Homo sapiens: one gene and its partners. The protein of the gene in region 2 purifies or fractionates together with the protein of the main gene of each other region. This does not show direct contact. Each region holds a gene or a part of one and is shown on either strand. Other genes may lie near its edges. The genes, in order: RGPD6, MME, MTHFD1, SLC67A1, PAM16, POTEI and LEMD2.

Region 1 (3,500 bases), on a different chromosome or scaffold from region 2:
GGATCAAGAAAATTCACCTTCATTTATGTTTCAGGGTTCTTCTAATACAGAATTTAAGTCAACCAAAGAAGGATTTTCCATCCCTGTGTCTGCTGATGGATTTAAATTTGGCATTTCGGAACCAGGAAATCAAGAAAAGAAAAGGGAAAAGCCTCTTGAAAATGATACTGGCTTCCAGGCTCAGGATATTAGTGGCCGGAAGAAGGGCCGTGGTGTGATTTTTGGCCAAACAAGTAGCACTTTTACATTTGCAGATGTTGCAAAATCAACTTCAGGAGAAGGATTTCAGTTTGGCAAAAAAGACCTCAATTTCAAGGGATTTTCAGGTGCTGGAGAAAAATTATTCTCATCACGATACGGTAAAATGGCCAATAAAGCAAACACTTCCGGTGACTTTGAGAAAGATGATGATGCCTATAAGACTGAGGACAGCGATGACATCCATTTTGAACCAGTAGTTCAAATGCCTGAAAAAGTAGAACTTGTAACAGGAGAAGAAGGTGAAAAAGTTCTGTATTCACAGGGGGTAAAACTATTTAGATTTGATGCTGAGGTAAGGCAGTGGAAAGAAAGGGGCTTGGGGAACTTAAAAATTCTCAAAAACGAGGTCAATGGCAAACTAAGAATGCTGATGCGAAGAGAACAAGTACTAAAAGTGTGTGCTAATCATTGGATAACGACTACAATGAACCTGAAGCCCCTCTCTGGATCAGATAGAGCATGGATGTGGTCAGCCAGTGATTTCTCTGACGGTGATGCCAAACTAGAGCGGTTGGCAGCAAAATTTAAAACACCAGAGCTGGCTGAAGAATTCAAGCAGAAATTTGAGGAATGCCAGCGGCTTCTGTTAGACATACCACTTCAAACTCCCCATAAACTTGTAGATACTGGCAGAGCTGCCAAGTTAATACAGAGAGCTGAAGAAATGAAGAGTGGACTGAAAGATTTCAAAACATTTTTGACAAATGATCAAACAAAAGTCACTGAGGAAGAAAATAAGGGTTCAGGTACAGGTGCGGCCGGTGCCTCAGACACAACAATAAAACCCAATGCTGAAAACACTGGGCCCACATTAGAATGGGATAACTATGACTTAAGGGAAGATGCTTTGGATGATAGTGTCAGTAGTAGCTCAGTACATGCTTCTCCATTGGCAAGTAGCCCTGTGAGAAAAAATCTTTTCCGCTTTGATGAGTCAACAACAGGATCTAACTTCAGTTTTAAATCTGCTTTGAGTCTATCTAAGTCTCCTGCCAAGTTGAATCAGAGTGGGACTTCAGTTGGCACTGATGAAGAATCTGTTGTTACTCAAGAAGAAGAGAGAGATGGACAGTACTTTGAACCTGTTGTTCCTTTACCTGATCTAGTTGAAGTATCCAGTGGTGAGGAAAATGAACAAGTTGTTTTTAGTCACAGGGCAGAAATCTACAGATATGATAAAGATGTTGGTCAATGGAAAGAAAGGGGCATTGGTGATATAAAGATTTTACAGAATTATGATAATAAGCAAGTTCGTATAGTGATGAGAAGGGACCAAGTATTAAAACTTTGTGCCAATCACAGAATAACTCCAGACATGAGTTTGCAAAATATGAAAGGGACAGAAAGAGTATGGGTGTGGACTGCATGTGATTTTGCAGATGGAGAAAGAAAAGTAGAGCATTTAGCTGTTCGTTTTAAACTACAGGATGTTGCAGACTCGTTTAAGAAAATTTTTGATGAAGCAAAAACAGCCCAGGAAAAAGATTCTTTGATAACACCTCATGTTTCTCGGTCAAGCACTCCCAGAGAGTCACCATGTGGCAAAATTGCTGTAGCTATATTAGAAGAAACCACAAGAGAGAGGACAGATGTTATTCAGGGTGATGATGTAGCAGATGCAGCTTCAGAAGTTGAAGTGTCTAGCACATCTGAAACAACAACAAAAGCAGTGGTTTCTCCTCCAAAGTTTGTATTTGTTTCAGAGTCTGTTAAAAGAATTTTTAGTAGTGAAAAATCAAAACCATTTGTATTTGGCAACAGTTCTGCCACTGGGTCTTTGTTTGGATTTAGTTTTAATGCACCTTTGAAAAGTAACAATAGTGAAACTAGTTCAGTAGCCCAGAGTGGATCTGAAAGCAAAGTGGAACCTAAAAAATGTGAACTGTCAAAGAACTCTGATATCGAACAGTCTTCAGATAGCAAAGTCAAAAATCTCTCTGCTTCCTTTCCAACGGAAGAATCTTCAATCAACTACACATTTAAAACACCAGAAAAGGGTAGGTACTTTGTTGTTAAAGTTAAGCACAATTTTTCTTTCTTTTAATGTTTAGCTTGATGCAGACTCTTTGTGGGATACTAATGTTGGGATATAAACGATGCTTTGTGAACACCCCCAAAATATTTGAGCAATTTTTTTTCTCCCTTAATAAGTTCACGGTGAGGTTTCAAAGAGCAAGAGAACTTAGTTAAAGACATTTCAGTAACTGGAAGATACTTCTATCATGCTAGGGCAGAGCAAAAGAACTTGGTACAGTGTACGGACTCATGCTTGAATCATGCGCATTAACGTGAGTCTTTTTTTAAAGTGTTCATTTTCATTTGTTCTGTTTCTTTTGTCACTCAGAAAACATGATATTGAGGCTGGGCACGGTGGCTCACTCCTAGAATGCCAGCACTTTGGGAGGTTGAGGTGGGCAGATCACTTGAGCTCAGGAGTTCGAGACCAGCCTGGCCAACATGGTGAAACCCTGTTTCTACTGAAAATACAAAAATGAGCCGGGCATGGTGGTGCGTGCCTATAATTAGCAGCTACTCAGGAGGTTGAGGCAGGAGGATCGCTTGAGCACAGGAGATGGAGGTAGCAGTGAGCTGAAATCATGCCACTGCACTCCAGCCTGACTGAGTGACTGAGTGAGACTTTGTCTCCAAAAAAAACAAAAAACAAAAAACAAAAAAAAACATGATATTGAGATGTTCTCATTTTATGTGTTGTATGTCAGTCTTGCTCATGTATTAAATGAGCAAAGAATGAAACTACAGGGATAAATGAATATGTAAGACAGTCAGATTGGTGGTATAAATTGAGGGATTCTGGCTTTTTATGTTTTAAAAGCATATTCATTTTGTTTCCTAAAATGTTAAAAAATGAAATATTCTTTATTTTCTAGGATTTAATTTTAGCCTTTTTAAATCTAATCCCATGGCCTTTTGGACTAGCACCCCTTCCTCACAGCCTGAGAGCAAAGGTATAGAACTAGCATTCTCAGTATGAGATAACAGCAGTTTTTAGCAGCTGGGTAGCCCTTAGCAAAGTATTAATTACTGTGGCTGTATGAAATGAAGTACTTACCACTACAACATGCATGTTAAAGAATGCCAGTTTAAGCAAAGTACCTTTTGACTGGTGGCATGACACCCTTGTTGGTTTGTTTTTTAAAATGTAGTGGGATGCTGATTTGTAATGTACTTCATTGCTCTGCTATTTCAGGTCTGCTCAATGAAGACCTATGTTTTATCTA
Region 2 (3,500 bases):
TGAGGGGAGTAGGCAGTAGGGATTGAGGAAGGAGAGACTCCAGCAAACATGTTAGTTGGAGTCTTGGAAAGAAAATAACGTGGACTGATTAAAATTTCTAGTTTTTATCCTTAAAAAGAAAATGTAGACATCTTTTTAAAATTAAAGAATGCAAAAATGTATTGTGCTAAATCTCCCTTACTTAGGTTATCCTGTTATTCTTAAATTTATACACATACAGGTTCTGTAAGTACTCAGAGTTCAGCTAAAACCTTGAAAAGCAGTAATGTGTTTTCTCATATACCATATTTCCCCCATTACATTTATTGAATATGACTTCACATTTATGTTTGTGCAGTGGTTACAGTGTTGTATGTTTTTCTAACGCTTTCTACAATGATATTAAGTTGTAATAGCAAAAAGTTCTACTGGGGCATCTACTGAAAATATGCCTAGTTTTCAGATCATATATAAGTAAACAATCCATTTGGATTACATTTCATCATAGGCTAGGAACATGGGCCTTGTGAGGAGAAGTGATGAATATTTCAAGAACTTAGATGAGACATTTGTGAAATGTGTGCTCTTAACATGCTCCAGACCTTTCCTTCTGGTCAAATGCCATTTCCTTTTTCTTTTCCGTAGGCCCTTTATGGTACAACCTCAGAAACAGCAACTTGGAGACGTTGTGCAAACTATGTCAATGGGAATATGGAAAATGCTGTGGGGAGGCTTTATGTGGAAGCAGCATTTGCTGGAGAGAGTAAACATGTGGTAATGTTTTCAGAATAATACACTGTCAGTTATACAGGACACTATCAGTTTGTTCACACTGATGAGCAATTACAGTTCTCCATCATTTGGCTAAAATTTTATTAATTTAGGCAGAGAACCTCTGAATCATAATATGCCATTGTTTCCCAATAAATCTTCCCTTGCCTTCCCCAAGAGTCTAGTTATGTTTCTGCTCCTAATACTGTCTAGTCTGAAACCAACTCACCATTTTCCAGAAGCAGTGTATTTGGAGTACCCAGTAACATGTTCTATTGATATAGTCATTTATAAACTCTTCTATTATCAAAATTGCCCCCAAATTAGTATTTTCTTAAAAACATAGAAAGTAAAACAGGATTTATTTGGAGTATAAGAAATGTGCTTTATTTTTCATTGTTAGGAAAATGAAGACAGTGGAACTTAATGGTATGGTGAAAGAATTTATTGAAATGCTACTTTATGCTTAGCTAAACCACTAATGGTAATGACAGCCCTAATATTTTACATTAGTTCTTCCAGTATGATAGTGAAACCATTATATTCTGAAAATGATTTTTACCTTAATGCATATATTAAGACCTATTTAATCAAGAGTGTCGATAATAGCAATATTGCTTTTAAAATATAATGGTCCCATATATCTGTTAGCTTAGGTCACAGTTTGTCTATAAATTTACGTTTATTAACATATTAAGTCATACAAAGATAGCATGTAGCTCTATTTTTAAAAATCTGTGTTACAAAGAATGAATTAATGACCTATATTTGTCTTCTGTTCTGATTTGAGGTCGAGGATTTGATTGCACAGATCCGAGAAGTTTTTATTCAGACTTTAGATGACCTCACTTGGATGGATGCCGAGACAAAAAAGAGAGCTGAAGAAAAGGTAAAGAGCAGACAGCTAACTAGCAAAGAAAAATCTTTGCTAGTATAGGAAAAATTAACTTTAAAAACATTTAGAAAAAAATATAATCAAAGATTGCATAAAAACTTGTAAGCTCCTTCAATATGTAGTGTTTCCAGAAAGAGTTTTTGTGGATAAAGATATATTTCTACAATTTTAATCTTTTATCTCTGCAACCAATACTCTAGCAAGGTGAAAATATTAAGTTTCTGTTCAAGCAAATGTAAGGTGGTGCACTATTGGTGCATTATAAGATCTATAATTAAAGAGATGTTGAAGAAGCTTTTTTATAACTATTCATGCCCACCCATAATGTGCAGCTTTTATTGAGACTTTTACTGAGTTTCATAAGAATAGGTCTAAGATTTCTCAGGAAATCTTAGGTTTAAATTTACTGTGATCATTTGTCTTTATAATTATATAATAACTAGGGGGAACATGTCCTGTGAAAACTGTTAACATGCTTTATGAGCAACATTCACATGCATCCTGACTAATCTCTGTAGTTAGGTTGGCAGAAAAAGCAGACGATTTGGATTGATAGAGGAGACAATAATAAATGTATTTTAATAAGATAATCAACCTTGGTCTAGTTTTCTTTTAGAATTAAATCACATGGAAGGACTATCTTTTTTCAGCTCTCAAAGAGCCCTGAGTGGGTTAGGCCTAGAACCTCTGCCCCCAGTATTGCTATCTTTCCATCACTCTGGCCAGCTCTTCAGACATTCAGGTTGGATTTGCTCCTTTCATGTCACAGCTGTGCATGACATGGCTCTGCTTGGTAAAGCCAGTTGGATTGTTCTGGATCGGCATTTCCAAAGTGGTGTCACAAAATACTGGACATGCAAGTTATTCCACAAGAGGCTCATGGTCAAAAGAGTTTGGTGAACACTTCTTGTAGGAAGGCTTCCCTCATCTCACCCTAGGCTGGGTTACATGCTCCTAGGGTGTGATTTTATTATCATACGTGGGAGTTAATATTTATTTCACTGCTTATCATTGCTGTTTACAATAAGCTCTTTATGGTTGGGGGCAGGGGGGCAGAAAATACTGCCTAGCATTATATCCTCAGCCCTTTATAACATACCTGGCCCTTGGTAGACCCTTGAAATATATTGAGTGAGTAAATTGATAAATTAATTTCCCATCCTGGATATTTATAATAACTTATGATTCTAACCTTATAATCTAACCCATTTTTAATTGTAAGAAGTCCTGCAATAAAGAAACTTGCTTAATGTTTTTGCGACAGCATTTACCCGAAGTAATTCACAATAATTTTTTTGTGTGTTTACTACCTTATACTTTCTGTAGAATTTGTATCCTTTAGAACACTCTTTAAGGAAATGTCTTACAGTAAATAAAGTATCATTAAGTGGGGGCTGGATTGTCATGACTGATGGCAAACCTACAAGAAAATGGGTTTGGCCTCAGTGACTTCAGTGATACATATGAGGCCTGATCCACTGACTGGGGAAATCCTGGGCTCATGTGACAGATTTGTAATAAAACTGCATCCATTTGATGGGAAACCATGTAACTCAGAGATACAGGCTAAACCCCCCATGAAAAATTTAAATTAATTAAATTATTTAAGAGTGATACGAAGTGGTAAAATCAAAAGTCAAGTATCATTGAGAAAATCAAGAGAGAAATAAAATAAAAATAGAAATAACAAGTAGTAAACAAGTGATAATGAAATAATAAAATAAGTAAAATAAACCATTTTAAAATAATTAAAAATGAACTTTAGAAGTAGTGATAAATAGGCCAGGTGCAGTGGCTCCCTGGTGTAATCCCAGCACTTTGGGAGGCCGAGGCAGGCAGATTGCTTGAGCCCAGG
Region 3 (3,500 bases), on a different chromosome or scaffold from region 2:
TTCCTGAGCCCAAGAATGCGCACACACACACACGTGCCTGTTGACAGTGCAGTCTCTTAAATGTGGGGAGAGAGCAGGAGAGAGGCCTAGTACTTTCTCTTTTAATCCTCCCAAAGTAGTGCTCTACATTCTGTAGGAGAAGGAGCAGTGTCTGGACATAACACGCAGGGCCCCAAGCCTGTTTGCCCCTCTGCCTTGCAGGTTGACACTGATTTCCCTATTGGGTAAAATGGCTGGTGAAAGGGAGCTCTTTGGCATGTGTAGAAATGAGCACGGCATGTGAAGGGCTGTCAGAAACAGTGTGTGGCTTACATTTGAGGCCTTAACCCAATATCTTATGAAATAGCTTATGACACTTAAGAATTTAATACAAAGCTCAGGGATATCCTTTTCATTTCTGGGTTTTTTTTTGGTGTGTATTTCATTATTTCATTTCTGATGTCCAAATCCCCTACCCCTAGGTAAATAAAGGTGACATCCTGGTGGTTGCAACTGGTCAGCCTGAAATGGTTAAAGGGGAGTGGATCAAACCTGGGGCAATAGTCATCGACTGTGGAATCAATTATGTCCCAGGTGAGTGTTGTTGGAGGAGTAAGGTGGCTGCTGGTATTGAGGATGGTATCTAGGTCATCAAAAGAAGCCTGAGAGAGAAGCTTGTCTCATTTTATGCTTGTAGTACTAAGGTTTAGGAGACTGACTAGCCCAAGGGTGCACAGAGTTAGTAGATAGAAGAGTTGCCACTTGCAGGCAGGTCTGCCTGGTGCCAGAGCCTTTGATTTTCATCATGTGCTGTACAGCTTCCAAGATGACTTTGTCCAGGGAGAAAGTGAGAGGGAGGGCAGGAGGGATATATCACTTTATCTTCATGTAGAGATCACCCTTTATTTTAGCAAAGTTGATGGATGGATTTAAAATACAGTATAATTATTGCAAAGTGCTATGAGAGTCCAGAAGAGGGACTCATTCTGCCAAGAGGAGGGCTTTACAAAGAAGATATTTGACCTGGGTTTTTTTCTAGGCTGAGAGGATAAATCTAGCCTTTTAATCATGTCCAAAACTGTACTCGGCATCCTCATCCCCAAGTTACCCCTTACTCCCGTCTTTTGGTTAGTATCACCATTCTTCCTTCCCGCAAGTCTGAAGCCTTTTAGTTTCCCTCCCAAGCATTCCCTATATTGGACCAGTCTCTAAATATTAGGAATTGTTTTCTCTCTCCTCTGTTCTGAGTGTCACCACTGAGTGTTACCTTCTCAGCTGATGGGCTGTGATAACTTCCTTGCAGGTGTCCCTCCCTCCAGCTGCTTCCCACTCAGATCTATCCCCGTGCTCTCGCCTTGCCACGTTCACCTTCTGGCATGGAACTCTGAGCCTCTTCCTTCTTACTTGCCAGACTCCTTAGCCTCACACTAATTTCAGTGACCTCTGCAGCCTGTGATCTCACTTGCGCATGGTGAATACCTGTCTTCAACTTGTAAAGTGGACCACTTTCCCTTCCCTGCGCATGCCTCGTTTGCCCTTTGTAGTTCCCTCACCTGCATTCTTAGTGGAGTGGGCTACTCTTTCAAACAGAAAACTTCACAGAACAATAGGGCAAAACTTGCGTACGTCCTCATAGATCCAAGAAAGGAACAATCTTTAACGGAGCAACTACTGTGTATCCAGCACAATGCCAGGCCTTGGGCTACACAACTGAATAAGGTTCAACTTCACCTTCACCTTCAGCTGCTTCCTCCCCATCTCCTCTCTGTCATGTCTGTTATTCCTTCCAAACCTTGTTTGATTTCCCCTTATCAAGGGATGATCTTTCCTTCTCTCCCTCCCTCCTCTCCCATAGAACATGTGTATTGTATCTTTTGTTGCATGTGTCTCATGTACGGCGTCCTGTGCTCTCCTGCCTAGATAGCTCCTCAAGGGCAGTGGTCACTGTGGCGCCACATCCAGCTTCCTGCCATCTGACCACTGGCACTCATATCTATTGAATTGTCGAAGGGAGTTATAGCTGGAAGTCTTTTTTCTCCCTTCCCATCTCAAGTTTCAGATGTAGACGCTGAGCTGCCAGGAACATTAGTCACTGTCAAGCCTTCACCGTTTTTAACCTCCCTCCCACTCTCCCTACCGTGCTTTTAAGACAGTAGCTCATAATTGATCACTCATTTTCTTGTAGTGTAATTATCTAACAGGCGATAAAGAAATTGCTCTCCTACAACTCCTCACTTTGAATACTTGCGATATGACATTCAAGCTCAGTCTTTTTATTTATTTATTTTTTTAATTTTTTTTTTTTTTCTTGAGACGGAGTCTCGCTCTGTTGCCCAGGCTGGAGTGCTGTGGCGCGATCTCGGCTCACTGCAAGCTCCGCCTTGCGGGTTCATGCCATTCTCCCGCCTCCGCCTCCCGAGTAGCTGGGACTACAGGCGCCCGCCACCACGCCCGGCTAATTTTTTTTGTATTTTTAGTAGAGACGGGGTTTCACCATGTTAGCCAGGATGGTCTCGATCTCCTGACCTCGTGATCCGCCCACCTTTGCCTCCCAAAGTGCTGGGATTACAGGCGTGAGCCACCGCACCCAGCAAGCTCAGTCTTTTTAAAACCTCGCATCTTCTGTATCATATTTCTGCTTTTGGCATTTTTTTTTTGGATTACATGTGAGAAATGGAGAAGAAAAACCTGAGTGGGGATCTTGAGTGTTGCAGATAGGTAGGAAATGTTGACTTAAACATGAAACTTGCCATCCTTTTCACATTGATTCCTTATGTAGACAATAAAATATGAATAAAATCAAAGCAGTATCTTCCCTTCTGGTCAACAGTGTTTTTACTGATCTTGGGCATATAGGCAAATTAATGCTGATACAGCTGGATGTTATTGTGTTCCCCAAAGGATGGCAGAATCACTCAGTTACAGACCAGCAAATGGGCTGCAGGACCTAAAGACTGATATTTGCAAATGTTCACTTTAGAAGCAAACTTTTCTACCACCGAGCTACTTCTTGGTTCATATTTTGATTATTTAAATAGTTTGCATGGTCCACTCAGGGATAACATTGTAAGTCACTTGCCAAATTAAGAATGAATCAAGGTGTGTATACCTTTTACAAAGAAGTAATATTTTTAAAGATTCAAGTGCAGGGCAGAAAGTATTGGCCAGAGAAACACATAAAAGTGCTCTTCCTGCTTGGCTTACTAAAGATAAATTGAGAAGGGCCAGATCAATAGTGTTTTATTTGGAAGGGTTAAAAAGTGGGAACAGATTCCCCACCCTAATGCAATCCAGTCTCAACCTATCCAGTGTAGCTGCTTCTGGACTGGCCTCTATTATTAGGGTCCCCAAATTAAATGTAGAAGAGTCAGGGCTCAGCTGGATCTTTAGTTGATTTTTGTACATGTGATTTCCCAAAGAAAGAGAAATTCTAGGGCTGGGGGTAGATAACCAAAAGGTTTGCTCATTACTGAGGTCATATGCTTAGGCTGAGTAGTGGTCACTTTTTCCACTGACCACAT
Region 4 (3,500 bases), on a different chromosome or scaffold from region 2:
TGGGGCTTCCTACTGAGCTCGTCTGTAAGGCCTCCAGGCCTGTGCCGGACCGCCACGGCCTTCCTCTCAGCAGCTGAGCAAACTCCTATACAGCCTGCAAGGGCCCTTCTTGGTGAGGCCCCAGCCCTCCTTCCCAGACAGCATGCCATCTGAGAAGGACTCGCTTTACCAGCTGGCTAGAATCTGGCCCCTGAGGGCAGGTGGTCCAGGGTTGGACCCTGCGCGGAGACCGCAGTGATCATTAGATGATCGGACAAATGTGTGAGCCATTCACACACGCAGCACAAGTTCTGCCCCAACCTCAACAGATCCTCCAAATCTGCCCTGGCCAGGGCCTCAGGGCACAGGCACCCAGTAGGGGTCAGGGTCCTGGAAGATGCCCTTGCACCCAAAAACAAGGCCAGCCACAGGCCACCATGTCCCCACCAAGGAGTTCAAAGAAAGGACTTTCCTCGCCCCTCTTCACCGCAGCCACATGCGCACACACACACACACACGGGCAAACTTGTACACACACTTACCTGCATCCGTTTGCCAGAGCAAGGAGGGGACTTGGAGCCACACTGACTAGGACAGTCAGTGGGGCCACCTCTGAGTCCAGAGAGTCTGGGCATTGGCCACCCCTCATTTCTGAGGTGGGACCCCTAAGCTCACATCAGTCTAGGGGGGTGCTGGCATATCCACCCCACCTGTGCTGCTGCCCCCGCCAATCCATCAGGGCAGCTCCGACTCCTGCAGCACCCACCGCCCAGGACGTCAGCTACTCAGGTTTTCTGGCTGCTGGGGTTCCGCACGAATGGGCCCTTCCTTTGGGAAAATGCCAGGGAAGGGGAACGGCTGGGCTCGGGCGCCACAGCTTGTCCCTCCAGCCAGCAGGCACAGATGTATGGCGCAGGAGGGACAACTGGCCCCTGTGGCCAGCCCCAGAGAGACGGGCCCTTTCTTTGGGACCCTGGCCTCAGAGGCCTGCGTGTCACAGCTCAGGGTCTGGCTGGGCAGGGGCAAAACCTGCCTTATTTGCCAGATGTCCCAGAAGTACACAGGAGCAGACGCACCACTTCGATGGCTATTTTAGGAGGCTGGTGACAAGCAAGGCATGGTGGCAGGAAGCCAGGCCCTCGAGCGGTGGTGGGTAAACCAAAGGCCTGTGCTGCTGTGGGCAACAGGAAAGCCTGGGGCTGGGGGACCCTGGAGGGCCCCAGGAGGTAGGGAGTCAGGTCCCACCACTGTGCCAGGGGCCGTGGGTGGCTGCTGGGGGAGACGCAGGCTGTCCTTCCCCAGTCACAGCTCTCCTGCTCCCCAAAAATGAACTGCCAGGAGGGAAACGGGAGTGGGAAGGAAATCCAGCACGCTGGCCCCAGCCCTGGGGCCTCTGCACGCCGGACAGCCTGGGCATCCCCCGGGACCATTGACTGGAAGCACCCTTAGCACGGTGCCGTCAGCCCCTCCTGCTCAGCCCCCCTCAACCTCACCACGACCTGCCAGACGCAGGGGCACGCTGGCTTCCCGGGGCTCATCCAACACTTTTATCAGTGGAGCCACGACCAGGAAGGTGGGGACAGGTTAATTTGTCTTTGTCTCCTCCTGCTCTTTCAGTTGAATGGATTACAGGAGTGTCTGTCTGGATGCTGTTGAAAGGACACTGGACAGGACTCAGGGGACCCACAGCCTCTGTCCCTTCTCTGCCGCTTACCTGCTAGGTGACCTCATTTCCTTATATGCAAATGAGGGCTGGGTTCACAGCTGCCGGCTGCCCCTAACTCCACTGTTCTGGGGCCCCTCTGGACCTGCAGGGCGCAGCCCACCTGCATCCTGCCCACCAACCGCAGCCCACACCTGAGGCTGCCCAGATAGCAGGGCGTGGAGTTGGCTTTCAATCGCGTCTCCAGGAACCTCTGCTGAAGTCTGGGCTTCTGTGTGTTCTACGGTGACAAGCCCTCATCAAGCCTCACCTTACTCTGAGGCTCTGAAAGGGGACGCACAAGGTGACAGCATGTGCCCAGGTCATCCTGCTGCCAGGAGCGAACCCACAGGTGGGGCTGAGGCTAGGTCAGCTGGGACCTGGCTTTGTGGGACACCTAGCTCACAAGACGATGGGGCAGGGGGCTGTCCAGAGCGTCCCTGGATGTCCAGCCCAGGGCTGAGAGAAGTCATCCGTGCTCCAGGATGCTGCAGTTAGAACCATGTTTGAAAATGAACATCTTGCCATGCCACTCCTAACGCAGCTGCCGTCTGGCTTCCAGCGTGCCCCAGAAGGTCCTAAAGGCCCCTCTGGCCTGACCCTTCCCAGTCCTCGTGTCTCCTCGTACCTGGTCCCCCCATTCCCCAAACACATAGCCCTCCAACCAAACCACAAGCTCCCTCCTGCCCCAAATGGGCTCTGAGACTGGAGTGACTCACGGGCCCAGCAGGAGGCCTGTCCAGCCTGCTGCTCAACAGGGCTGTCCTGAGGGACAGCGGGGCCAGAACCATCTCAGCGGGGCCTGCTGCCTGCCCACTGTGGGAAGAACAGAAAGAACCGGAGTGTCCTGGGCACTGCGAGGTACACGAACTAAGGCAGTAGCTGAGTCACCTGGCTGGGGGGGCGGCGGGCCTGGGTCGCCCATATCCTGCTGCTCCCTCAGCTGCCTGCCAGCCCCTGCCCTGCATCTATCTGCCCCCGAGAGCCTCTTCCCTGTACAGCAGGTGCCCTGTTACAAACACCCCTGCACTCCTCAGCCTCCGCTCAGCGCTTGGGGTGCCCTGGGTCGTATGGGACACTGCTCACCTCCCCTCCCATCCCCTCCTCCCTCTCTGAGCTCCAGTGCCCCTGGCTCCTTGTTTTTTCTTGGCTGGGCAGGGGTGTCCTGCCCACAGGGCCCTGGCACCCCCATGGCACCGGCATGGCCCTGGTGGCTGCCTGTCCACCTGGGGAAGGCAAACCCTGCAGGGCTCCCTGCTGTCTGGCTCAGGATAGGACTCTATGGCCCCTCCCCATCCCTCCCCAGTCTGTGAGGGGCTGGGCTCAGAACATGAGTCACAGAGCCACCCCCCACCCAGCGTGTGTGCAGTGACTCAGGTCCCGGGTCCCTCCTCAGGCCAGCCTGGCCTCTCAGCCCTGGGCTCTGGAGGCTGGGCCCAAACCAGTTATACCAGTGCCCGCCCCCGCAGCCTGTGGGTGCCAAGTCCACTTCCTCCTCCCACCTGCTGCCCAGGTGGGTGCGGATGAGGCAGGACTGGGGCCTTCCAGAGGAATGGGATACACAGGTGGGTGGGCAGGGAGGGAAAGCCCACACATGTTGTGCCTCGGTTTCCATCAAGGAAGGGCAGGAAGGCTGCAAGGCGGGGGATGTTCACAGCTGCACCAGACTCCTGCCCCGCACCAGGCCAGGAGCCAGAACAGGCTGCAGGCGTTGGGGCAGCTGGACCAAGAGGGCCAGGGGGCTGGCCCTTGCCATGGGGCACCAGGCTTTGGAGCCTGGCTGGCACCTGGCCCCACTGCCTTCGGTGAGCCCCCGAGG
Region 5 (3,500 bases), on a different chromosome or scaffold from region 2:
AGAGGAGGGGGTTCTGTGAGAGGAGGGGGTTCCGTGAGAGGAGGGGGTTCCTCCTGGGCTGGGCTTTGCAGGGTAGGAAGAATCATGATGGAAATACTAGGGCTTTCTAGGCAGAGGGACTGGGTTGAGCCAAAACTGGCAGGAGAGAAGGCAGAAGGGAGTTCCTGCGAGCAGCCAATAGCCTAGGCTGGCCTGGGAAAGACTGGGAATCTGGCGGATGACATGGAAAGATGCACAGATCTTTGTGAAACAAAGCGATTATATATAGACAGCACATACAAAGGATCTTGTGACTGCAAAGCCGTAGACGCAGGGGGGTGGCGCGGGCTGGAGGCAGCTCGGCATAGGTTGAAAGCTCATGTGGCACAGCCGAGTGACTTTCCCTTTCTTCCTAGTGCTTTTCTGTAGATTTGCCTTCAGTCAACAAGTATCAACTGAGTCCACACACCAGGCACGGTGCCAAACACGTTCAATTCATTGTGCCGTTTAATTCTGACAACTCAGGGGTGGGGGACTGCTGACTGGCCCGAGGACGTAACAGCAGGTGCCTCGGAGGCAGATCGGAAACCCAAGGCTGGTGCTATCTGTCACAGCAGTCACTACGCAGGGTCCCGGGGTCTGAAGGTAGGGCACCTGGGCAAGCCGACAAGTATCAAGAACCCAACCCCGAGGCCAGAGGGGCTTGCTCCAGATTCCAGTGGATTCGACTCCAGAGCTGGCCTTGTTCAGCCTCCGAGGACCTGCTCTTTCCTTAACAGGTGGGATGTCATTATGGGCCATTAGGGGAATGAACAAACAAGTGGGTTAAGATTTCAAAAGTAGGTGGAAACTTCATAACTTCTGGATTTCACAGCAGAAAGAGCCCAGAGAAGACCCTCCTGTGATCACAGCGAGGGGCAGGGCTGTGGCTGTACTGCAGATGAGGGAGGGTCAGGGATGCACCTGATGACACCTGCGGTCTCACCTGACTTCGCCTCCTTCCTAAAGCCCCTCCCGAGTGGAACAGGAGGCTCAGGGATGGGATGCTGGTGCTGTCTGAAGGACAGAGGTGAAAGTCAGAGGGTCCCCTCGGCTTGAAACACGGCTCAGGTCTCAGACTACCCCTCACACCAACAGCCTTCGGTCCCTCTGCTGCCATCGTACAGCCTTGCAATCACTTGTTTACTTTTCTGCCAAGGCCAATGACTGTTGCAAAATAATGAACGGTAAGAGCTGAGGTCATAACTGGGGAGCTTCCCCGACCATCCCCTGCACACTTCAAACCAAAGCGGCGTGGTGGCCTGTGGCTTCAGCTGCCTAGAGCTGCAGGGCAGAGGGGGGCTGGCCTGCAAAGTTTCAGCAGACTGGACGGCCCATTGAGGCCAGCAAGGTTCCTATAGGAGGCATCTCTGAGAAGACGCAGTGTAGTGTAATGGTTACACCTGCAGGCTTTGGGATCACCTGTGTGCAAAAATCCCAGCTATCTGACATAGACACGTTCTCAACTCCTTTGAGCAACCCAGTTTGCTTACCTGTAAAATGTGGCCACCAATAAAGCTGAGATAATGCCTGTCAAATGCCTGGCACACAGCCTAATGGTACAGCAGGTGCTCAATAAACATTGGTTTTCATTCATTACTACTGTTTCACAAAATCTGACAATGACCAGGCACTATGAAGTAACAAAGCTTCTTTCAAAATAGCAGCTCATTTGATACAGGCCCTTTGCTTCCTCAGGGGTGAAGGCTGCAAAACACCATACTACATTCCCTCAGGGAGCTGGGAAGCAGCAAGGAAGCAGAACGAGAACCACGTTGACCTGGGACCAGAACCCTAGCTTTCTTTCTCAATAGCTGTGTGACCCTGGACAAATTACTCAACCTCTCTGAATCTTTTTTTGTTTTGGTTTGGGTCTTTTATTTTTTATTTATTTTTTTGAGACTGACTCTCGCTCTGTCACCCAGGCTAGAGTGCAGTGGTTCAATCTCGGCTCATTGCAACCTCCACCTCACCAGTTCAAACGATCCTCCTGCCTCACCCTCCCAAGTAACTGGGATTACAGGTGAACACAACCAAGCCTAGCTAATTTTGTATTTTTAATAGAGACGAGGTTTCACCATGTTGGTCAGGCTGGTCTCAAACTCCTGACCTCAGGTGATCCACCCGCCTCGGCCTCCCAAAGTGCTGGGATTACAGGCATGAGACACCACACCTGGCCTTTTTTTTGGAAGCAGAGTCTAACTCTGTCGTCCAGGCTGGAGTGCAGTGGTGCAATCATGGCTCACTTGCAGCCTCAGCCTCCCAGCCTCAAGAGATTCTCCTGCTTAAGCCTCCCGAGTAGCTGGAGCTACTTGTACTCAGCCTCCGAGGACCTGCTCTTTCCTTAACAGGCGGGATGTGATATGGGCCATTAGGGGAATGAACAAACACAAGTGGGTTAGGATTTCACAAGTAGGTGGAAATTTCATAACTTCTGGAGGCTGAGCACACGCCACCACATTTGGCTAAATGTACTTTTCTGGAGAGATGGGGTTTCGCCATGTTGCCCAGGCTGGTCTTGAACTCCTAGGTTCGCATGAACTGCCCTCCTCGGCTTCCCAAAGTGCTAGGATTACAGGTGTGAGCTACTGTGCCCAGCCTACCTCAGTTTTCTTAACTGCAAGATGGAGAGAATAACACCCTCCTCACAAGAGGACAGTAAGGCCCTCAGGAGGCAATGCCCATTAACACCACATGGACAAACAGCGGCAGGTCCAGAACTAGGCGGTGCAGGCAAGCCCCTCATCCACCTATCCAGTACCCCAACATCCCCTGAGCTTCTGCCATGGGTCAGGCTGAGTTCAGAGCTCATTCACAGGGAGCAGAGCTCTGCCAGCTGTGGCTACCATGGGTGACCAAAACAACCACTGCCTGAGGCCCCTCCCAGAGGCTCCAAACATCCCATAGTCCACCGACTGACACTTGGGCCTGAGGGTCCCAGGTGAGAGGACCCAGCTGACTTGGCATCCAACTTCAGGCCACGCGGCTGTCAGAGAGCAGCAGTCAGAAGCACAGGATCCAATCCTGGCATGCGTGGGGGCAGCATGTGCACTTCGTTGTTGGGCAGCAACCTGGCCCAAGGCAGGACCAGATCCCAGCAGCTGGGACCACAGACAGTGCTGTGGGAGGCACTCAGCAATGGGGCTTACACTGACTTGTGTCTTTGAGATTCGCGTGCAATGCGCCTTTGAGGCCAAGCCCCAGGCTCTGGGTAGATAAGCAGACAGCCTGAGACTCACTCTCAAGGACACTCTGGTCACCCAGGGCCCCTGAGAATAGATACGGGCATCACAACTAGACAGGAGAAAGGTCAGGACCACAACTGTAGCACGTGCCACAACATCAGGGACCTGGCCAGTGGCTGGCGCAGTAAGTGCCCCTGGTGCATCTGAATGAATATGGCTGTTGCAGCTTTGCCCAATCTGCTGTCTCATGAACTCCATGTCCCCAGGCAGGGTTTCCAAGCGCCTCCTAACCCTTCT
Region 6 (3,500 bases), on a different chromosome or scaffold from region 2:
CAGTCAAGAATAACACTGAGGTTTTTGGCAGAGCAACTGGAAGAGTTGCTGTTAACCAAAGTAGGAAAGACTACATGAGGTGTAGATTTCAGGAAGGACATCAGTAGCCCAATTTTGGATCTGACAAGTGTGTGATACCCAACAGCTAATCAAATAGAGATGTCAAGTAGGTGGGATGATATAGAGATCTGGAATTAAGGAAAGAGATCTAAGTTGGAGACATACATTTGGAAATCACTAGCATATACACAGTAGAAAAAGTCATGAGGGGCCAGGCACGGTGGCTCACGCCTGTAATCCCAACATGTCATGAGGCCAAGGCGGGCAGATCACCTGATGTCAGGAGTTTGAGACCAGCCTGGCCAACATGGGGAAACCTGTCTCTACTAAAAATACAAAAATTAGCCAGGCGTGGTGTCGCACACCTGTAATCCCAGCTACTCAGGAGGCTGAGGCAGGAGAAGTGCTGGAACTCATGAGGCAGAGGTTGCAATGAGCCAAGATCATGCCACTGAACTCCAGCCTGGGGGACAAAGCGAGACTCTGTCTTAAAAAAAAAAAAAAAAAAAAAAAAAAAACCATGAGAAAGAAGATTGAGGACTGAGCCATGAGAAACAACAATGTCCAAAAGGAGAAAGATGAGGAGCAGCAAGCAAAACAGACCATGATAAACGGACTAGAAAGGCAGGAGGAAAAGCCTGAGGGAGTGAGGTCCTGAAAGCCAAGTGAAGACGCCATTAGGGAGGAGATGCCCTCCATTGGCTCAAATATTGCTGACAGATTAAATGAGGTGTAAGAAAAATGCCTAGATTTAGTACAGAAAAAAATTAGTGATAATCTTGAGGAAAAACAACTCTGGAGGAGTGCTGAAATTGAAGACTTACCGGCATTGAGATCAAGAGTGAATGGAAAGAAAATTTGAGTTCATGAGTGTAGACAGTTCTTTAAGGACAACATACTTAACGCTCATGACTGAGAATGATGTAATTTTCATCCACAGTCATGGAAAAGTGATAGACAAGAAATAGTAGCTTCCAAATTTTACATAACAGGTGGAGTTTTCAAATTTTATGTAACAATTATATATTCTAAAGGTTATAAAAATTATACACATATGGCATTTAGAAATGTCAGACCAAGGTTTTTAAAGGCCCTTTGAACATTTCTAGATTACATAAGCTGATTATCATTTTGTTCATGCTTATACATAAAGACCAAGAAATACTAAAACTCTCAAGGAGAATATTTCTTGCTTGATAAAAATCAGCCAATTCTAGGACAGTTGACACTCATCAAATATACAAAGTAATTGATCACAGTAAAATACTGAGTTCTATTAACAGGAATAAAGTGGGAGAAATGCAGAAAATAATCTTATTTTATAAATGTAGTTTTCAAAATCATATGAAGTCACTGGAAAAATACGGTGAGGTGAATACTGAAATATATCCTTTTCTCAAAGGGAGGATAATGTCACACATGCAGGGCACTTTTACAAATAAAAGTCACTGCATTAGCAGCACCTTCCTTTTAGCACAAGGGTCAGCAAATAAGCACCTGTGGGCCAAATCCAGCCCACTGCCCGTTTTTGTAAGTCAAGTATCTTGGAACACAGCCATGCTTATTCACTTTACAGTCCATAGTGTCAGTTAGCTGGGTGTGATGTTGCACACCTGTGGTCTCAGCTAGTAGAGACTGAGGTCAGAGGATCACTAGAGCCCAGAAAGTCGAGGCTGCAGTGAGCCATGATCACACAACTGCACTCCAGCCTGGGAAACAGAGTGAGACCCTGTCTCAAGAAAATCAATATATGTAGTCCACAAAGCCTAAAATATTTACTAACTAGCTCTTTGCAGAAAAAGCTGGCCAACTCCTGGTTTAGTAGATCAAAGATTCTTTGATGTATTTTAATAAAAGTTTTACCAAATATACTGAAATGTTTATATTAAATATAGATCCCCATGTACAATCCCTTGGCAATATTCAGATTGAGGGTCCAATATTTCAGCACTCAGGCACTGACAACAAAAATTTAGTAACTAGCAATCTTGTTGCTAACAAGGTACAGTGTCAATGTAGCATGTAGCTTCCATTTGCAACACAGCAGATATTACAAGAATTTTAACAAGAACTCTTAAGATGTGTCATCAAACTAAACGCTTTAAATACATTTTAATTGTGAAATAATCAGTATACCCTACATCTAACCTCATTTTTTAAAAATGGTTGCATAATACATTATTTTGGGGATATGGAAATTGAGCTATTTCCTATTGATAAGCAATTAGACTAGTTCCAAATTTTTTACATAATAATACTATAATAAATGTCCTTATACATAAGTATACATATAACATATCTATACAAATATCCTTTACATGTATTATATATGCTTACTCTGTTATATATGTGTGTGTGAATATGCTACTCAATTAATGTTCAAAATGTATTTACCAACAGTATATGAAATGTCTTTTTCAATGAAACCATTTCCCCTGCAGCAACACGGATGGAGCTGGAGGCCATTATCCTAAGAAAACTCATGCAGGAACAGAAAATCAAATGCCACATATTCTTACTCATTAGTGGGAACTAAACATGAGAACTCATGGACACAAAGAGGAGAATAACATACACTGGGGCCTACTTGAGGGAGGAGCATGGCAGGAGGGAGACGACCAAAAAACTACCTTTCGAGTATTTTGTTTATTATGTGGCTGGTGAAATAATCTGTACCCCAAGCCTCCATGATACAGTTTACCTATATAATAAACCTGCACACGTACCCGAAGCTAAAATAAAAGTTCACTGAAAAGAGAAGAAAATGCCTTTTCCCTCACATTTGCCAATACTGGTTATTTTTCAAATAAATTAATGACTGGAAAAAAAACGGTAACTGATTGTTTGCTGATTTTCATTTTTCTGATTAACAGGCAAGGCTCAATATCCTAATAAAAGTATAAAATTTGTTCATCATGAATATTAGCTCAAATTAGGATTAGTTTGACAGCACAAAGTTACCTCCTGTTCAATGTTGCCATAGGCTTACCTGTGATACTCTTCATTCTCAGTGTCAGGAAATTGCTGGCTTTCAGGTGTTCTGCTCTTCCTTGGAGGAATTAATCCATCATCACCATTGCCAGCAGTGGCACCATTAGTCAGGTTTTCTGGGAATCCGACGTGAGTACTTCCGTGCTTCTTCATTTCTTCGATAGCCATAAAATTTTCTAGCTGGAAAATACAGAGAATAAGAAATTATCTACTTTAGGCACATTATCTACTGATAATCAGACTAAAACCAAGAAAGATAAAATAATTGGTCTAAAGCTCCTAAAGTGGCATTACCTAGCATTTTATGGCACCATTCGGGATTATTCCATAATAATGAAAGAATAGCTCTAGGGTTTGCACCTCTTCAAAATTCAATGTACAGAATTCTGAGTTAACTATTTAATTTTTCACTGATGATTTATGCTACTTACATGATAGGATCATGTATG
Region 7 (3,500 bases), on a different chromosome or scaffold from region 2:
GGGAAGGCAGCCTGGAGGGTGGCAGAGCCGCTCAGGATGACCATATTGAAAGTGGGTCCTGAGAAATCAGGACACTTGGGATGCCAGCCATTCCAGCATGCAGCCTCAAGAGCATGATATTCTCGCCCTGGGTCACCTAGCTGGAAGAAGGCTCTGGTGTCCCCACCTCTGCAGGTCCTGACACCTCCTGGCCAGAGACCATGGTGGAGGCGCCGTGGCTGGGGTCTGGCCTCGGAGAGCCTGGTGGTTTTCATTCCCCATGAGCCTCACGGATTCCCCATGAGCCTCATGGATGCCCCATGATCTTTACACTTAAACAGCTTATGTGCCTCCTTGTCACCGAGGAAAAGTGCAACCTCCCAGATTCTGTCTTTCAGTTCTTGCCATGCAATTGCAAAGCTAGTGATTCAGTAAACATTTCCATTTCTCTATGCTGGGAGGTGGGAATCCAATTTACAGTTTAATCTCCTGCATGCTGAGAGAGGCTGTCAAAGACCTGACAGGGGGACGTTGCTTTAGCGGTAGGGGTTCAAGCCTGCTGCCGTCTTTAAAGCTTTATTCATTCTAAGTAGCCAATGTGGGAAATTTCTGGAAAGAATGCAGCCAGGATACCAAGCCTATTCTATAAGCAAGTAGAGGCCTTGCGTCCCCACTTTCCTTCGCTTCCTCCTGTTTGAAGTGGGGCTTGCACTGCCTCTCCTTGGAGCTTTCCAACATGTTCAGAGCCCTGTGTCCTGTTTCAGGTTGAAAGGAGAAGACCAGTCTGAATTGGTGACGACTGTGGACAAGGTGGTCTGCCTGGAATCTGCCCACCCCCGCATGGGTGTTGGCTGCCGCCTGAGCCGGGCCTTGCTCACTGCTGTCACCAACGTGCTCATCTTCTTCTGGTGTAAGTCCTCGGCCGCCTTCCCTCCCCTTCTGTGCAGTCAAGCATACTCCTAGGCATGAATGATGAGCTATAGAAATTCCAGGCCCGGAGGGTTCATTTCTGTCTAGTGAACCTGAGGTCTGTCTCATAAAACAGAGGAGATGAACAAGTCAGCCTCTGCCCTGGGTTGTATTTACCTTTGGAGATTGGTGGCAGGAATCCGTGAGGATAACTAGAAAATGTCCTTGATTCAGGGCAGGGGACTGTCAGATTTCCTGAGCGGGAGCCTGGCCTGAGCAGGAGCTGGGCCCCACCCCTTCTGGGCTCTGCAGGGATCCCAGTGTGGACCAGCTTCGAGCAGGAGGCACAGCAGGGGCTTGGCCTACTTTTACTCCCTGAAAAATATAAACATCTCCTGGAGAGCTACAGATACCTGATGAAAGCAAGAAGGACTCAGGGTGCTGCACTGAAAGGAGGGCACCAGTCTTATCCCCTGACATCGGGGGCCGCCTTTGAGCAGAGACCTCAGGGCGTCTCTGAAGGCGAAAGGCCAAGTCACAGAAACCACGGCTTTCCAGAGATAGTTGGAGCTACAAATCACAGACCGCCTCAGTGTGCACACAGCTCCCTCCCCTGTGCCATCAGGCACAGAAATCATTATCGGCAGCAGCATCTCGGAATACAAAGGGCCCCGGCATGTATATATGTATGAAACACTGTGTTCTGGTTCACAAGGGAGGAGATGAAAGCCCCAGAATGAGGTTGGGAGGAGCCGAGATCTGGACGGCTGGGGATGCCGCTGTGGTGACAGCCGGTGGGAGGAAGATGATCACTTAATAATCTGTCGTCCCTCTGCATTTCTGTATCTTTTGTTTCTCGCATGCTGGCCCTGAGCCTGACACATAGTAGGTACCCAAACCCATGTGGTGGATCCCCCACAGCATCCATCACAGCATCTTGTCCATGGTGAGACCCACTGCCAAATGAAGTGTGAGGGATTAACAGTGTTTTGTTCCCTCACAGGCTTGGCTTTTTTGTGGGGGCTCCTAATTCTCCTAAAATATCGGTGGCGAAAGTTAGAAGAGGAGGAACAAGCCATGTATGAGATGGTGAAGAAGATTATAGGTGCGTGGCCCCCTGGTGAATAAAGGGTTGCCGACGCCAGCCAGAGGGTCCTTGCCCTAAATGGTGTGCTCTCTCCTGCAGACGTGGTCCAGGACCATTACGTGGACTGGGAGCAGGACATGGAGCGCTATCCATATGTAGGCATCCTGCACGTGCGCGACAGCTTGATCCCTCCACAGAGCCGGTGAGTCCCTGGCTGGGGCGCTGGGTGTGAGGTAAGATGGGGTCCGACCCCACTGAGCTCCCCAGAAGGAAACCCAGAGCCTTGCATCAGATGTCAGCTGAGGGCAGTGCAGACCCCAGGGCCAAGAGTGGCTCTGCTCCCACTCCTGCTGCTCCCCAGCATGCTCGGCTCTTTATGGCAGGATGAGCTAGAAAAGACATATGAAAGCACAATCCCACACCTCTGTAGAGAGAACACTGGCAGTGGTGATACCAGTTAGGAGGCCTTGGGCTCCAAGTAATAGCAGCTCCCTCCCCCAGGGCACAAGTAGTGAAGGATCTCCTCAGTCTCTGTAAGTGGAAGTTCAGAGCTGCATGGGCTCCAGGCACAGAACAGTCAGGTCTCCGGTTCCATTGCTCTTGTGATTCTCGTGGTCCCACACTCCTCCATGGATGTTATCAACAGACTGGGGTCCCTCATGGTTGCAGATGGTGGCCAACAGCAGCTGGGGCACTGTCTGCCTTGTCACAGCCAGCAGGGGAAAAGTAGGCCTATTGTTGTCTTATAAGCAAGAGAACATGTTCCCAGTAGCCTCCAGTGACACACTCCTTGAGGCTTTATTGACCAGAATCTCTTACATGTCTGTTTATGAATCAGTCACTGGCAAGGAGGAGGAAATTGTTTTTCAAACTTTTTAAACCATGACCTGCAGTCAAAAACACCTGTTACCTGCAACATCATGGTCCAGTTCCCACACACGCATGCGTACACTCATGCATATACATGTAATTGAAAGCAAAGTTTCACAACATGAATGGGGTCAGCTTCCAGGGCACATAGCTTCATGGGAAGGGGTGGCAGGGCCACTGTCATGTGCAGCTGCAGGGCACCTTCCACATGGGCTGTGACTGCTGGAGTTGTACACTGGGGTCCTGACAGAACCAGGGTGGGGGAGGGCAGAGTCCCAGGAGACAGCCAGCAGGGCCCCCCCCAGTGTTGGCTCTGGTTGTGGTCCCTCCCTAGCAGACACTTGCTGTGGTTTCTGGCCAGATGCTGTCATCTGCTGGGTGATGCTGAGAGCTCACCCTTGCTGAGTGCTCCCTGGGAGCCGGGCACTACTTGGAGCTCTCCACAGATGCAAACTCACTCACTTGGTCCTCACCATGGTTCACGCACACAACAGAAGTGGCCCCATTTTACCTATAAGGGAACTGAGGCACAGGGAAGTAGAGGAATGTGCTCAAGAGTCCCATGGCTAGTGGCATTTCCGTGCTCCCGCCACCAGGCTCTACTGTCAACATCATCCCTATCTGCAACCCAAGAGGAATCAGAAAAATAGAGCCG

Evidence for each region.
Region 1: the proteins of MME (region 2) and RGPD6 purify together in Homo sapiens (affinity purification with mass spectrometry, with the first as the bait; one large-scale study listed by BioGRID). This does not show direct contact.
Region 3: the proteins of MME (region 2) and MTHFD1 purify together in Homo sapiens (affinity purification with mass spectrometry; one large-scale study listed by BioGRID and IntAct). This does not show direct contact.
Region 4: the proteins of MME (region 2) and SLC67A1 purify together in Homo sapiens (affinity purification with mass spectrometry; one large-scale study listed by BioGRID and IntAct). This does not show direct contact.
Region 5: the proteins of MME (region 2) and PAM16 purify together in Homo sapiens (affinity purification with mass spectrometry; one large-scale study listed by BioGRID and IntAct). This does not show direct contact.
Region 6: the proteins of MME (region 2) and POTEI purify together in Homo sapiens (affinity purification with mass spectrometry, with the first as the bait; one large-scale study listed by BioGRID). This does not show direct contact.
Region 7: the proteins of MME (region 2) and LEMD2 purify together in Homo sapiens (affinity purification with mass spectrometry; one large-scale study listed by BioGRID and IntAct). This does not show direct contact.

Annotation. Positions count from the first base shown.
Region 1 is NC_000002.12:110,532,223-110,535,722, reverse strand, and holds part of RGPD6 (RANBP2-like and GRIP domain-containing protein 5/6), read left to right. Parts: intron 1-34; coding exon 35-2,258; intron 2,259-3,149; coding exon of another isoform or gene 3,150-3,253; exon of another isoform or gene 3,254-3,500.
Region 2 is NC_000003.12:155,142,819-155,146,318, forward strand, and holds part of MME (neprilysin), read left to right. Parts: intron 1-624; coding exon 625-753; intron 754-1,540; coding exon 1,541-1,639; intron 1,640-3,500. UniProt on the Homo sapiens protein: Thermolysin-like specificity, but is almost confined on acting on polypeptides of up to 30 amino acids. Biologically important in the destruction of opioid peptides such as Met- and Leu-enkephalins by cleavage of a Gly-Phe bond.
Region 3 is NC_000014.9:64,419,353-64,422,852, forward strand, and holds part of MTHFD1 (C-1-tetrahydrofolate synthase, cytoplasmic), read left to right. Parts: intron 1-461; coding exon 462-573; intron 574-3,500. UniProt on the Homo sapiens protein: Trifunctional enzyme that catalyzes the interconversion of three forms of one-carbon-substituted tetrahydrofolate: (6R)-5,10-methylene-5,6,7,8-tetrahydrofolate, 5,10-methenyltetrahydrofolate and (6S)-10-formyltetrahydrofolate.
Region 4 is NC_000011.10:2,912,278-2,915,777, reverse strand, and holds part of SLC67A1 (solute carrier family 67 member A1), read right to left. Parts: intron 990-3,500; exon of another isoform or gene 629-989; coding exon of another isoform or gene 522-628; exon of another isoform or gene 1-521. UniProt on the Homo sapiens protein: May act as a transporter of organic cations based on a proton efflux antiport mechanism. May play a role in the transport of chloroquine and quinidine-related compounds in kidney. Plays a role in the regulation of lipid metabolism.
Region 5 is NC_000016.10:4,344,822-4,348,321, forward strand, and holds part of PAM16 (mitochondrial import inner membrane translocase subunit TIM16), read right to left. Parts: intron 1-3,500. UniProt on the Homo sapiens protein: Regulates ATP-dependent protein translocation into the mitochondrial matrix. Inhibits DNAJC19 stimulation of HSPA9/Mortalin ATPase activity.
Region 6 is NC_000002.12:130,471,329-130,474,828, forward strand, and holds part of POTEI (POTE ankyrin domain family member I), read right to left. Parts: intron 3,232-3,500; coding exon 3,050-3,231; intron 1-3,049.
Region 7 is NC_000006.12:33,775,631-33,779,130, reverse strand, and holds part of LEMD2 (LEM domain-containing protein 2), read left to right. Parts: intron 1-743; coding exon 744-889; intron 890-1,891; coding exon 1,892-1,993; intron 1,994-2,074; coding exon 2,075-2,177; intron 2,178-3,500. UniProt on the Homo sapiens protein: Nuclear lamina-associated inner nuclear membrane protein that is involved in nuclear structure organization, maintenance of nuclear envelope (NE) integrity and NE reformation after mitosis.